Linked DNA regions of Homo sapiens: regions 2 and 3 are each linked to region 1. Evidence: fine-mapped expression QTL. A gene starts in region 1. Each other region holds a variant in brackets. All regions are shown on one strand. Distances are from middle to middle.

Evidence for each region. PIP is the estimated chance that this variant, and not a neighbour inherited with it, causes the effect.
Region 2: its variant is the best candidate, but not a certain one, in a credible set for the expression of NUCB1 in whole blood (INTERVAL, PIP 0.72).
Region 3: its variant is the best candidate, but not a certain one, in a credible set for the expression of NUCB1 in whole blood (TOPMed, PIP 0.64).

The regions. Positions count from the first base shown.
Region 1 is chr19:48,898,619-48,902,618 of GRCh38, reverse strand. NUCB1 (nucleobindin 1) reads right to left here and starts at 2,307. Exons shown (of 13, transcript NM_006184.6): 1 at 2,247-2,307; 2 at 1,688-1,833. The coding sequence starts at 1,822. TULP2 (TUB like protein 2) reads left to right here and starts at 3,875. Exons shown (of 13, transcript NM_003323.3): 1 at 3,875-4,000. RefSeq lists a cis regulatory region at 3,131-4,000 and an enhancer at 3,665-4,000.
Region 2 is chr19:48,919,040-48,923,180 of GRCh38, reverse strand. It overlaps NUCB1 (nucleobindin 1), which reads right to left. Exons shown (of 13, transcript NM_006184.6): 9 at 4,059-4,141; 10 at 3,895-3,987; 11 at 1,857-2,027; 12 at 1,249-1,354; 13 at 1-863. The coding sequence ends at 757. Among named protein-coding and RNA genes, the nearest start is that of NUCB1-AS1, 2.2 kb to the right of the region's middle. RefSeq lists enhancers at 1-445, 3,592-4,091. The variant G/A (reference allele first, on the strand shown) is at 2,084.
Region 3 is chr19:48,876,862-48,881,007 of GRCh38, reverse strand. It overlaps TULP2 (TUB like protein 2), which reads left to right. Exons shown (of 13, transcript NM_003323.3): 13 at 1-41. Among named protein-coding and RNA genes, the nearest start is that of PPP1R15A, 6.5 kb to the right of the region's middle. RefSeq lists enhancers at 758-1,470, 4,022-4,146 and cis regulatory regions at 1,911-2,523, 2,080-3,040. The variant A/G (reference allele first, on the strand shown) is at 1,828.

The sequences.
Region 1 (4,000 bases):
GGGCAGTATAATGACACCCTGTCTCTATCAAAAATACAAAAAAAATTAGCTAGGCATGGTGGCACATGCCTGCAGTCCCAGCTACTCCAGAGGCTGAGGCAGGAGGATCGCTTGAGTCTGGGAGATGGAGATTGCAGTGATTGCACCACTGCACTCCAGCTTGGGTGACACAGCAAAAATAAAAAAAAAAAAAAAAAAGAAAAAGGAAAAGAAAAAATGAGGTGGCTCATGCCTGTAATCCCACCACTTTGGGAGGCCGAGGCAGGCAGATCAAGAGGTCAAGAGATCGAGACCATCCTGGCCAACATGGTGAAACTCCGTCTCTACTAAAAATACAAAAATTAGATGGGCGTGGTGGTGTGCGCCTGTAGTCCCAGCTACTCGGGAGGCTGAGGCAGGAGAATCACCTGAACCTGGGAGGCAGAGGTTGCAGTGAGCCAAGATTGCACCACTGCACTCCAGCCTGGTGACAGAGCGAGAAAGAAAGAAAGAACTCAACTCACGCCTCCCTTCCTCCCTGACTGTCACCCCTGGTGTTCACTCTCATAGAGCCCTGCCCTTTGTCTTCCATCTCCCAGTGAGCAGGGATAGTCCATGGGCATGGGGCATGCACATGGCTGGGCCCTAACAACTATGCAACACATAGGCAACACTATGCCCGGCTCATAGAAGGTGCTCAGGAAACATGTGGAATGGAAGAAAAGAAATGGGACTCAACAAAGCCTTCCTGGGTCTGCAAGGATTTCACAGAATAGAGGCCTAACTTGCAGCGTGGGGACCAGGAACATGCAATGATCCGTTCCAGGGGGTAATGACTAGCCCATTCTTTGTTTTTTGAGACAGTCTCAGAAAACAGAGTCTCAGCTCTGTTGCCCAGGCTGGAGTGCAATGGCGTGACCTTGGCTCACTGCAACCTCCACCTCTCTTGGTTCCAGCACGAGAATTCGTGCCTCAGCCTCCCAGAGTAGCTGGGATTATAGGCGTGAGCCACCACGCCCAGCTAATTTCTGCATTTTTGGTAGAGATGGGGTTTTGCCATGTTGGCCAGGCTGGTCTTGAACTCCTGACCTCAAGTGATCCGCCTGTCTCGGCCTCCCAAAGTGCTAGGATTACAGGCATGAGCCACTGCGCCTGGCCTGACCAGCCTATCCTTATGGGGAGCTATAGGAAGATTCGGACCACAAGACACTCACTGACCTTCAGGATCTCCAAAGTTCCAAATCCCTTAAGACCAAAGCTTTTATTGGGTTTGATAAACACATGTAGGAATTAATAAACAAGCAGTTCACCCGCCCTTCTGTAATTTAAACTACAACTCCCAAGAGCACCATGAAGTCAGAATACCCCAGCTAGCCAACATCAACTGCTACTGGGAACTAGCAACATGGTGCTACTGGGAAATGTAGTTTTGTTTGTTTGTTTTCAAATTCCTTCTTGGGTGGAGAGAATCTTAAAAAAACAGACGTTTAGTTGGGGCGTGATGCAGATTTTCCACACCTCAGAGTCAGGGACCTCCAGTTTTTCACCAAGTCAAACCCCTGCTGCTGGGAGGAATGGTGGGCAAAAAACAAGCTACAACTGTAGGGCCAGGAAGTCACTGGAGCATCCGCCCTACGGGCACCGGGGTCTGCAGGAGCTGTAGTACCACTGCAAACACCTGGCTGGATAGCAGGGCAGGGCCACTCACGGGACTCTCAGTCGCAGGGGTCTCCTCCTTGTTGGGCGCCCCTCGCTCCAGGGGGACAGCCAGCACGGCGCGAAGCAGGAGCAGCAGCAGCAGCGGCAACAGAAGGAGGGTTCCTCGGGGCCCAGAGGGAGGCATGGCAGTGTGGTCTGTGGGGGATGGAGGGCTGGATAATGCATAATGTCTGTCCCAAGCCTCTTCCTCCCCTGGAACCAGGAGTTCGGGCCCCCAGCGCCGCCCCCACTTCCAAGAATCAAGACACAAGCATTTTGTTACCCAGGCCCCAGGATTCCAGGCCTCCGGCCTTCCCTTCCTCCGACACAGGAGTCTGGGCCCTCAGACCCAGGGGTCCTGGCTCCCAACACGCTCCTCTCTCACACTCAGGAATCCGGGATCTCGGCCGCCTCCTCCCCCAGACCCAAGAGTCCAGGGTCCCAGCCTCCTCTTTTCCCAGGACCTAAAGTACTGGCACCCAGTGCATCCTCCTCCGGGACCCAGTTTTCCAGCCCTCTGGCCCCCATCCTCCCTAGGACCCAAGAGTATGGGAACCCTGGCCTCTCACCTCTCCTTCACCGCAGAGGGCGTTTTCCAGGGCGGGCAAGGACCTCCGGTGCGTTCTTGGTGACTTCCCCCCTAGACCACGCCCACTTATCCACAGAGGCCCCGCCCCAAAGAGGTCTGATTGGTCCACGCTGGCTCTGTAGCTTTCATCCACGTCCAGCGGCCCCGCCCCTTGCCGAAGCCGCTCGCATTTTCGTGAAAGCCTCGCTTCTTTCTCGGAATCCCAGCCTCTTGACGCCACATTTCCCGCCTATGCCAAAAGAGAGAGAAGGCTTTCAAAGATAACTACAACTCCCTGCCGGCCGGGGGAAAAATAACTTCCGCGGGCATCGTGGCCCCTTCGCCTCATGGGAGCTGTAGTTTTCCCATTTATTTTCGCCCCACGAAGTGCCTGGAAGTTATAGCGCGGTAGCAATTGCATAGCCTTTCTTATGAGTTTCTTTCTTCTTCTTCTTATTATTCGAGACAGGGTTTGCTCTGTCACCCAGGTTGGAGTGCAGTGGCGCAATCACTTCTCACTGCAGCCTCTACCTCCCAGGCCCAAGCAATCCTCCCGCGTCAGCCTCCCAAGTAGATGGGACCACAGGCCACACTACCATGCCTGGCTAATGTATATTTTTTAAATTTTTAATACAAATATTTAAATCTTTAATTCTTTTTTAGCCTTTTTTTTTTTTTAACGTTCTGTCTTTCACACTTCTCACACTTTGTTGTTGTTGTTTTTTAAAGAGACGGATGTCAAGCCGGGCTTGGGGGTTCACTCCTGTAATCCCAGCACTTTGGGAGGCTGAGGCAGGCAGATCACCTGAGGTCAAGGGTTTGAGACCAGCCTGGCCAACATGGAGAAACCTCGCCTCCACTAAAAATACAAATTAGCCAGGCGTGGTTGCGCATGCCTGTAATCCCAGCTACTCAGGAAGCTGAGGCAGGACAATCTCTTAAACCCGGGAGGCGGAGGTTGCAGTGAGCCGAGATCGCGCCACTGCACTCCAGCCTGGGCGACAGAGTGAGACTACGTCTCAAAAAAAAAAAAAAATCTCTGTGTTGCTGGTCTGGATCTGGATCTCCTGGACTCAAGCAATCTTGCCTCCCCGTCTCCGCCTCCCAAAGTGCTGGGATTACAGGCGTGAGCCACTGCGCCCCGCCTCTTTTAAGTTTCTTGTAAGCGAGATGTGTACAGTGAGGCCGCGAGGTCTCTGGTCTCCCGCTCTCTCTCTCTCTTTTTTTTTTTTTTTTTGAGACGGTGTCTACCTCTGTCACACAGGCTGGAGTGCAGTGGCGCGATCTCAGCTCACTGCGAGCTCCGCCTCCCGGGTTCACGCCATTCTCCTGCCTCAGCCTCCCGAGTAGCTGGGACTACAGGCGCCCGCCCGCCACAACGCCCGGCTAATTTTTTTGTGTATATATATATATTTTTTTTTAGTAGAGACGGGGATTCACCATGTTAGCCAGGATGGTCTAGATCTCCTGACCCCGTGATCCGCCCGCCTCGGCCTCCCAAAGTGCTGGGATTACAGGCGTGAGCCACCGCGCCGGGCCGGTCTCTGGTCTCTTTAAGGAACCCCCACACGGCATTCGTGTTCAGAACCCCCGGAGCAGGGTTGCCTGGCTGCATCAGTGACCGAGTTCGTTACTTTGTTGGAAGTGGAGAGTGGAGGGTCAGAAGGGAGTGGACCAGTTCAGGTCCCAGAGGGAATCCTCCCTCCCTCTGAGCCGTCTTTCTTCTCCTCCCTATTTCGCAGATATCCCGAGATT
Region 2 (4,141 bases), 20 kb before region 1:
GGGTGGGACTGGTCTTCAGGGGCTCCAGATGAGGCTGAGGGGCTGGGCCTAGGTCCTGGAGTGGGGTCAGCTCTGGGACCCTTCTGGGGCTGTGTGGGGAAGGGGCTGGGGGCCAAGAGGTCCAGGAGGAGGCTGGCGATGAGATGGCTGGAAGCCAGGGGTTCAGGGAGGCCCAGGCTCCTGGTATCAGGGTTCACCGGCTATACTGAGGATCCCCTGCCCCTGGCACCCAGCTGTGGAGGGGACACTGTCTTTGAGGCATCACTGGTTCCACAAAAGGTAGGGGAAGGTCTTGAGGGACCACCCCATGCCCTCATTAATCAACCAGAAGCTTGGCCCGGAGCAGCAGCGGGGATTCCAGTAGCTGTGGGCATACAGGATGCTAGGGCGGCCACAACCCAGGCAGCTGAGGCCGAGCCACCTAGGAACGCAGGCTCAGAGCAGACCCTCTTGGGACAGACGGAGAAGGGGAGGGGGCGGGCTTCTCTAAGTTAAGCCGATCACTGAGCACCTCACTGGACACGAGAGAAGGCAAGCCCCTCGGAGGACAGAAGGGAAGAGCCACAGACTTGGAGGCTGTGAAAGTGGAGACAGGTGGACCTGGGGTGGCAGCAATGCGTGAAATGCCAGGCCGTGCCCCCGCCCCAGGAGCCCAACATGACACCAGCCCCCAGGGAAGCTGACTGTGCCACTTCATCCAGCGCCCATCAGTCGCCTTGGAGCATCAGGAATCCTGAGGGCTGGGGTCCCGGAGGATCACAGATGCTGGGGCACCTCAACCTCAGGGAGCCGCTCGAGAAGTTTCTTTTCTGAAGTGTCCACCTCCTTCTGGTCACCGGCTGGAGCTGGGACAGGTACATCGTCTGGAAATGGAGGGAGGGAATGGTGGCACAGGACATCCGAACCCCTCCTCCCCCAGGACCCCAGAGGCCCAGCCCCTCCTCCCTCACACCCAGGGGTCCAGCCCCCAGCCCCTCCTCCCTCACACCCAGGGGTCCAGCCCCCAGCCCCTCCTCACTCACACCCAGGGGTCCCAGCCCCTCCTCCCTCACACCCAGGGGTCCCAGCCCCCAGCCCCTCCTCCCTCAGACCCAGGAGTCCGGACCCCCAGTCCCTCTTCCCTCAGATCTGGGAGTCTGGGCCCCCAGTCCCTCTTCCCTCAGATCTGGGAGTCCAGGCCCAGCCCCTCCAACCTCAGACCCAGGGGTCCAGCCCTGCAGCCCCTCCTCCCTGGACTAGGGCCAGCACCTGTGTCTGGGTGGAACTTGAGCTGCCCCTCAGGGTGGGCAGCCGGGGCCTTGTGGCCTTGCTGCTGCTGCTGCTGCTGCTTCCGCTGCTCCATGTGCAGCACAGCCTGTGGGAGGTGGGGGGTCACACAGACAAGAGGGTGTGATGCTGGCATTGCAAGTGCTCAGGCCTCAGTCCCCAAACGGAGACTTCACAGCAGCCTGCTAAGTGGTCACGGCCAACCCCTTCTCCGTGGGCCTCAGTTTCTCTCTTTCATTGACAGTCGGGCTTAATAATAGTCAAGGATCCAGTTCTCCCTCCAGTCACAGCTTGGGTCTTGCTTTGGGACAGGGAAACCCTCACCCATCCCTGGCTGAGTCTGCCTTTCTCCCCCTCCTGGGCCTTTCCCTCCTCACTTACAGCCTTAATGCCCTTATCTCACATGGCAGCCACAGAGCCGTCAGAGACGGGAAAACGTCTGCCCTTACTCAAGATGGCGGTGAATACTTGAGGCTCCCCCAGTGATTAACATGGTGGCCACAGGCCTTCCCAGCTTCTGGACACCCATGGGGACACGGACACGGGCAGCCAGAGATTCAGTGGATGGAAGCAGCTTCCCCCGCTGTCACCTGCTGCAGCTCTCTCTTCTGGGCCTCCAGGCGGCCCTGGGACCGCCCTAGAGCCTCTGTCTCCTGGCTGAGGCGCTGGGCCTTGGCATTCAGCTCTGCCTCCCGGGCAGCCAGCTCCTCTTCAAAGCGCCTCAGCTCTTCCTCGGTGTAGGCAGGGTGCATCTCCACTGTCTGCAGGGCAGGCACAGGGGCCATCAGGGGCACAGGTCCAACCTCGGCCCACCCAT[G/A]TTGGAGAGGGTTGTGCCAATGGGGGAGGTGTAGAGGAGGCTGGGAGGCCAGGGCCATGTGGGTGGGCAAAGAAGCCCAAGTGGGAGGTGGGAGTGGGATAAAGACCGAGAGACAAGGCCGGGCACCATGGCTCCCACCTGTAATCCCAGGACTTTGGGAGGCGAAAGTGGGAAGGATCACTTGACGCCAGGAGTTCAAGGTCAGCCTGGGCAACGGAGCGAGACCCTGTCTCTACAGAAAATTGGCTGGGCATCTTGAAAAATATATAGAAATAGGCCAGGCACCATGGCTCACACCTGTAATCCCAGCACTTTCGGAGGCCGAGGTGGGTGGCTCACCTGAGGTCAGTAGTTTGAGATGAGCCTGACCAACATGGAGAAACCCCGTCTCTACTAAAAATACAAAATGAGCAGGGCATGGTGGTACATGCATATAATCCCAGCTACTCAGGAGGCTGAGGCAGGAGAATTGCTTGAACCTGGGAGGTGGAGGTTGCAATGAGCTGAGAATGCACCATTGCACTACAGCCTGGGCAACAAGAGCAAAACTCTGTATTGAAAAATAAACAAACAAATAAATAAATAAATAAAACAGAGACCTAGATTAGCTGGGCATGGTGGTATGTGCCTGTAGTCCCAGTTACTCAGGAGGCTAAGGAAGGAGGATCACCTGAGCCCAGGAATTCAAGGCTGCAGTGAACTATGATTACACCACTGCACTCCAGCCTGGGTGACAGGAGACCCTGTCTCAAAAAATATTAATAAATAAATAAAAGAATGAGCTAGATTAGCTAGGCATGCTGGCATGTGCCTGTAGTCCCAGCTAATAGGGAGGCTCAGGCAGGAGGATCACTTGAGGACAGGAGTTTGAGGCTGCAGTGGGCCATGATAACACCCCTGCACTCCAGCCTGGGTAATCCCAGCACTTTGGGAGGCTGAGAAGGGTGGATAGCTTGAGTCCAGGAGTTTCAGAGCAGCCTGGCCAACATGCAAAACCCTGTCTCTACCAAAAAATACAAAAATTAGCTAGGTGTGGTGCGGTGGTGCATGCCTGTAATCCCACCACTTAGGGAGGCCAGGTCAGGTGGATCGCTTGAGTCCAGCAGTTCTAGAGCAGCCTGGCCGATATGGCAAAACCCCATCTCTACAAAAAATACAAAAATTAGCCAGGCATGGTGGCTCACGCCTGTAATCCCAGCTACTCATGAGGCTGAGATGGGAGGATCGCTTGAATCCAAGAGGCGGAGGTTGCAGTGAGCCGAGATCCCACCACTGGGCTCCAGCCTACGCGACAGAGCAAGACCCTGTTTCAGAAAAAAAAAAAAAAAAAAAAAAATCACACCTCTAATCCCAGCACTTTGGGAGGCCAAGGTGGGTGGATAACCTGAGGTCAGGAGTTTGAGACCAGCCTGGCCAACATGGTGAAATCCTGCCTCTACTAAAAATACAAAAATCAGCTGGGTGTGGTGGCACGCACCTATAATCCCAGCTACTCAAGAGGATGAGCCAGGAGAATTGCTTGAACCTGGGAGGTGGAGGCTGCAGTGAGCCGAGATCGTGCCACTGCACTGCAGCCTGGGCGATGGAGTGAGACTCCGTCTCAGAATAAATAAATAAATAAATAAATAAATAAATAAATAAATAAGAGTCCTAGAGACAGGGGAAAACAGAGACCCAGAGATAGAGATGCAGTGACCCAGGAGAATGGACGGGGACCCAGAGAGAAAGAGAAGGGGCCTAAGATTCTGAAAGAAAGGTCATGGCTAGAAGAGAGAGAGGTTCAGGACCCCGAGTATCCCCCATGTTCTCACCTCCCAGCCCTCCCCGGTGTCCCCAAACTCCTTCCTCTGAGTGGATGCGAGGAACTCCTCCAGGGTCACGAGGCGGTCCTGGTTGGTGTCCACCTGGGGAGCCAGATAAGGGTGAGTGACAGAGCTGGGGGCCCGTCCTCTCCCCCGCCTGGCCCCCACCTCACATTCTTCATCACATGCTCCCGCATGCGCAGTCGCTCCTCCTCCATCTCCCGCATGTCGTCCTCCTCATTCTTTGGGTCGTACA
Region 3 (4,146 bases), 22 kb after region 1:
CTGGCTGTTGAATAACTCAATAAAATACCATACCCTTGCCAGCTTCTGTGCCTCCTCATTTGGAGGAAGGGCCCCGACATGCCTTCTTTTGCACCACCTTAATAACCAACACTGACCGGGCAAGGTGGCTCACGCCTGTAATCCCAACACTTTGGCAGGCTGAAGCTGGTGCATCACCTGAAGTCAGGAGATCGAGACCAGCCTGGCCAACATGTGAAACCCCGTCTCTACTAAAAGTACAAAAATTAGCTGGGCGTGGTGGCAGGCACCTGTAATCCCAGCTATTCAGGAGACTGAGGCAGAAGAAACACTTGAATCTGGGAGGCGGAGGCTGCAGTGAGCTGAGATAGCTCCACTTCACTCCAGCTAGACTCTGTCTCAAAAAAAAAAAAAAAAAAAAAATGCCGGGCGCGGTGGCTCACACCTGGAATCCCAACACTTTAGGAGGTCGAGGCGGAAGGATCACTTGAGGTCAGGAGTTCGAGACCAGCCTCGCCGATATGGCAAACCCCGTCTCTACTAAAAATACAAAAATTAGCTGGGCATGGTGGCGCATGCCTGTAATCCCAGCTACTCCGGTGGCCGAGGCACGAGAATTGCTTGAATCTGGGAAGCGGAGGTTGCAGTGACCCGATCGTGCCACTGCACTCCAGCCTGGGCAACAGAATGCGACTCTATCCCCCCACCAAAAAAAGGAATTTTCACACTACATCTGAAGAATCAGGAGCAACTAGCTGAGCAAGAGGCCTCAGGGTTGGGATCCTCAGGCAGCAGGTAGCACTCATACAAAGGTTTTTAATTAGGTGGAATTAGGCTTGGTTGCCTTGGGGAAATGAAAGGATTATATGGCAGGAGTGGGGGTCTCAAACTCCTGACCTCGAGTTAGAGATCAGCCTGACCAACAAGGTGAAACCCCGTCTCTACTAAAAATACAAAAATTAGCCCTGTGTGGTGGCGGGCCCCTATAATCCCAACTATTCAGGAGACTGAGGCAGGAGAATCACTTGAACTCGGGAGGCGGAGGTTGCAGGGAGCCAAGATCCTGCCATTGCACTCCAGCCTGGGCGACAGAGCAAGACTCTGCCTCAAAATAAACAAACAAAACAAACAAACAAACAAAAACCTGACCTCAAGTGATCCATCTACCTCGGCCACCCAAAGTGCTAGGATTTCTAGTTTAACTAAGCTGCTTTTGTAAAGCTAATGAAAGGCCATTAGGTTAGGAGGATGAGAGGAGCCTGCATTCTGTGAAGGTCTAGAGGTAGATTAATACAAAAATTAGCCCTGCGTGGTAGCGCACGCATATAATCCCAGGTACTAGGGAGGCCGAGGCAGGAGAATTGCTTGAACCCAGGGGGTTGTAGTGAGCCGAGATCACGCCACTGCACTCCAGCCTGGGTGACACAGAGAGACTCGGTCTCAAAAAAAAAAAAAAAAATTAAAAATTAGAGGTAGAGGTGGGCATAGTGGCTCATGCCCATAATCCCAGCATTTTGGGAGACTGAGGTGGGCGGATCATGAGGTCAGGAGTCTCAAACTCCTGACCACCAACATGGTGAAACTCCTTCTCTACTAAAAATACAAAACTTAGCTGGGCGTGATGGCTCACGCCTGTAATCCCAACTGCTCAGGAGGCTGAGGCAGGAGAATCGCTTGAACCCAGGAGGCGGAGGTTGCTGGTGTGCTGAGATCGTGCCATTGCACTCCAGCCTGTGTAACAAGAGTGAAACTCCATAAAAAAAAAAAAAATTAGCTGGAAGTGGTGGCGCACACCTGTAGTCCCAGCTTCTTGGGAGGCTGATCCAGGAGAATTGTTTTAACCTGGGA[A/G]GTGGAGGTTGCAGTGAGCCGAGAGCCCACCACTGCACCCCAGCCTGGGCAGCAGAGTGAGACTCCGTATCAGGAAAAAAAAAAAAAAAAAAAAAAGAATAACGGTATATAGAATAATTACCGTATTATAGCATTTATTTCATGAGCATTGTTTTAACTCCTTTGGGGCCTTACAATCCCATAAGATATGTACAATTGTTAGTCAGCTTACAGATAAGGAAACTAGGCCTATGGACACAGGGCTTATAAATGTAAAATCAGGCTGCAACAGCAATCATACAGGGTGGTTGCAGGAGATTAGAAAATTCCAGGCAGCAGTTTCACAAGACCAGACCAGCAACAGGAAACTTGAAATAGCTACAGAAGCTATGGGCTGATAAGATCCTGAAAAACCAGGGCGTGGGCCAAGTAGGCTAAGTCCGACTAGACCCAATATGGCACTGGGTCTGACCTCGGTTTCACGTAGGACCTCATTATATGTTCATCAACACAGTCACACACCCACCAGCATCATGACGGTCCCAGGAACACCCATATTTGGTGTAAAGATGGGTGGCACCACAGTTCTGAGAAATCTCCATCTTTTTCCAGGAATGCTCATGAGTATTTTACCCCTTGGTTAAAAAAATCCAAAAAGGGCCAGCGTGGTGGCTCACGTCTGTAATCCCAGCACTTTGAGAGGCTGAGGCAGGTGGATCACTTGAGGTCAGGACTTTGAGACCAGCCTGGCCAACATGGAGAAACCCTGTCTCTACTAAAAATACAAAAAATTAGCCAGGTGTGGTGGCGCCTGCAGTCCCAGCTGCTTGGGAAGCTAAGGTAGGAGAATTGTTTGAACCCAGGAGGTGGAGGTTGCAGTGAGCTGAGATCGTGTCACTACACTCCAGCCTGGGCTGGACAGAACAAGACTCCATCTTTAAAAAACAAACAAACAAACAAAAAACCCATAACGGTAGCAGCCTCAACCCCCCTTGCACGTGATTCTCTCGAGTCCCCTTTCATGAGTGTGGACTTTCCCCTTTGCAATAAATCCTGTATTTTCACTCTTTTCCAACTCGTCCTTGAATTCATTTTCATGACTGTGTCAAGAGCCTGAACACTGGCTGAGGGGGAGGTCCCACCCGGGCTTGGGGACCTCGATACCCACTGGTATCAAAGCAACGGAGGAGAATGTAAAGGCCTGTAGAGATTGAGCCTTAATGGTCCAGCAAGGCACAGACAATTCTGCCTCCTTTTAGGGATCCGTGACTCAATTCTCCAGCTCCCTTGGGGGGGTGGTGATAATTGTCCCAAGTTTAATACAATTTAGGCAGATGTCAAAGAAAAACTACAGGCCGGGTCTGGGTGCGGTGGCTCACGCCTGTAATCCCAGCACTTTGGGAGGCCAAGGCGGGTGGATCATGAGGTCAGGAGTTCGAGACCAGCCTGATCAACGTAGTGAAACCCCGTCTCTACTAAAAATACAAAAATTAGCCAGGCATGGTGGAGTGTGCCTGTAATCCCAGCTACTCAGGAGACTAAGACAGGAGAATCGCTTGAACCCAGGAGGCGGAGGTTGCAGTAAGCAGAGATCGTGCCACCGCATTCCAGCCTGGGTGACACAGCGAGACTCCATCTCAAACAAACAAACAAAAATACATAGGCCGGGTGCATTGGCTCACGCCTGTTATCTCAGCATTTTGGGAGGCCAAGGCAGGTGGATCACAAGGTCAGGAGTTTGAGACCAGCCTGGCCAACATAGTGAAACCCTGTCTCTACTAAAAATACAAAAATTAGCCAGGCGTGGTGGCGCACACCTCTAGTCCCAGCTACTCGGGAGGCTGAAGCAGGAGAATCACTTGAACCTGGGAGGCAGAGGTTGTGGTGAGCTGAGATTGCACCACTGCACTTCAGCCTGGGCAACAGAGCGAGACTCAGTCTCAAAAAAAGCAACAAAAAAAACTATAAAACCCACCAGCTGTTATGTGGGCGGCAAGACACCCAGGTGCCGAGGCAAGAGACCGAGGACATGAGCTGTTCCAGTATAATAAAATATAAAACAAGAATAATTATACCAGATATAGATCTTAGATATGATTATATATGAATATCATTAATCATTAGTTTGTAGCAATTACTCTTTATCCCAATATTATAATAATCCTCGCTCTATAATCATAACCTAGGAAAAACCAGGCCATACAGAGATAGGAGCTGAGGAGACATAGTGAGAAGTGACCACAAGACAAGAGTGCGAGGCTTCTGTTATGCCCGGACAGGGCCAGCAGAAGGGCTCCTTGGTCTAGCGGTAACGCCAGCATCTGGGAAGACGCCCGTTGC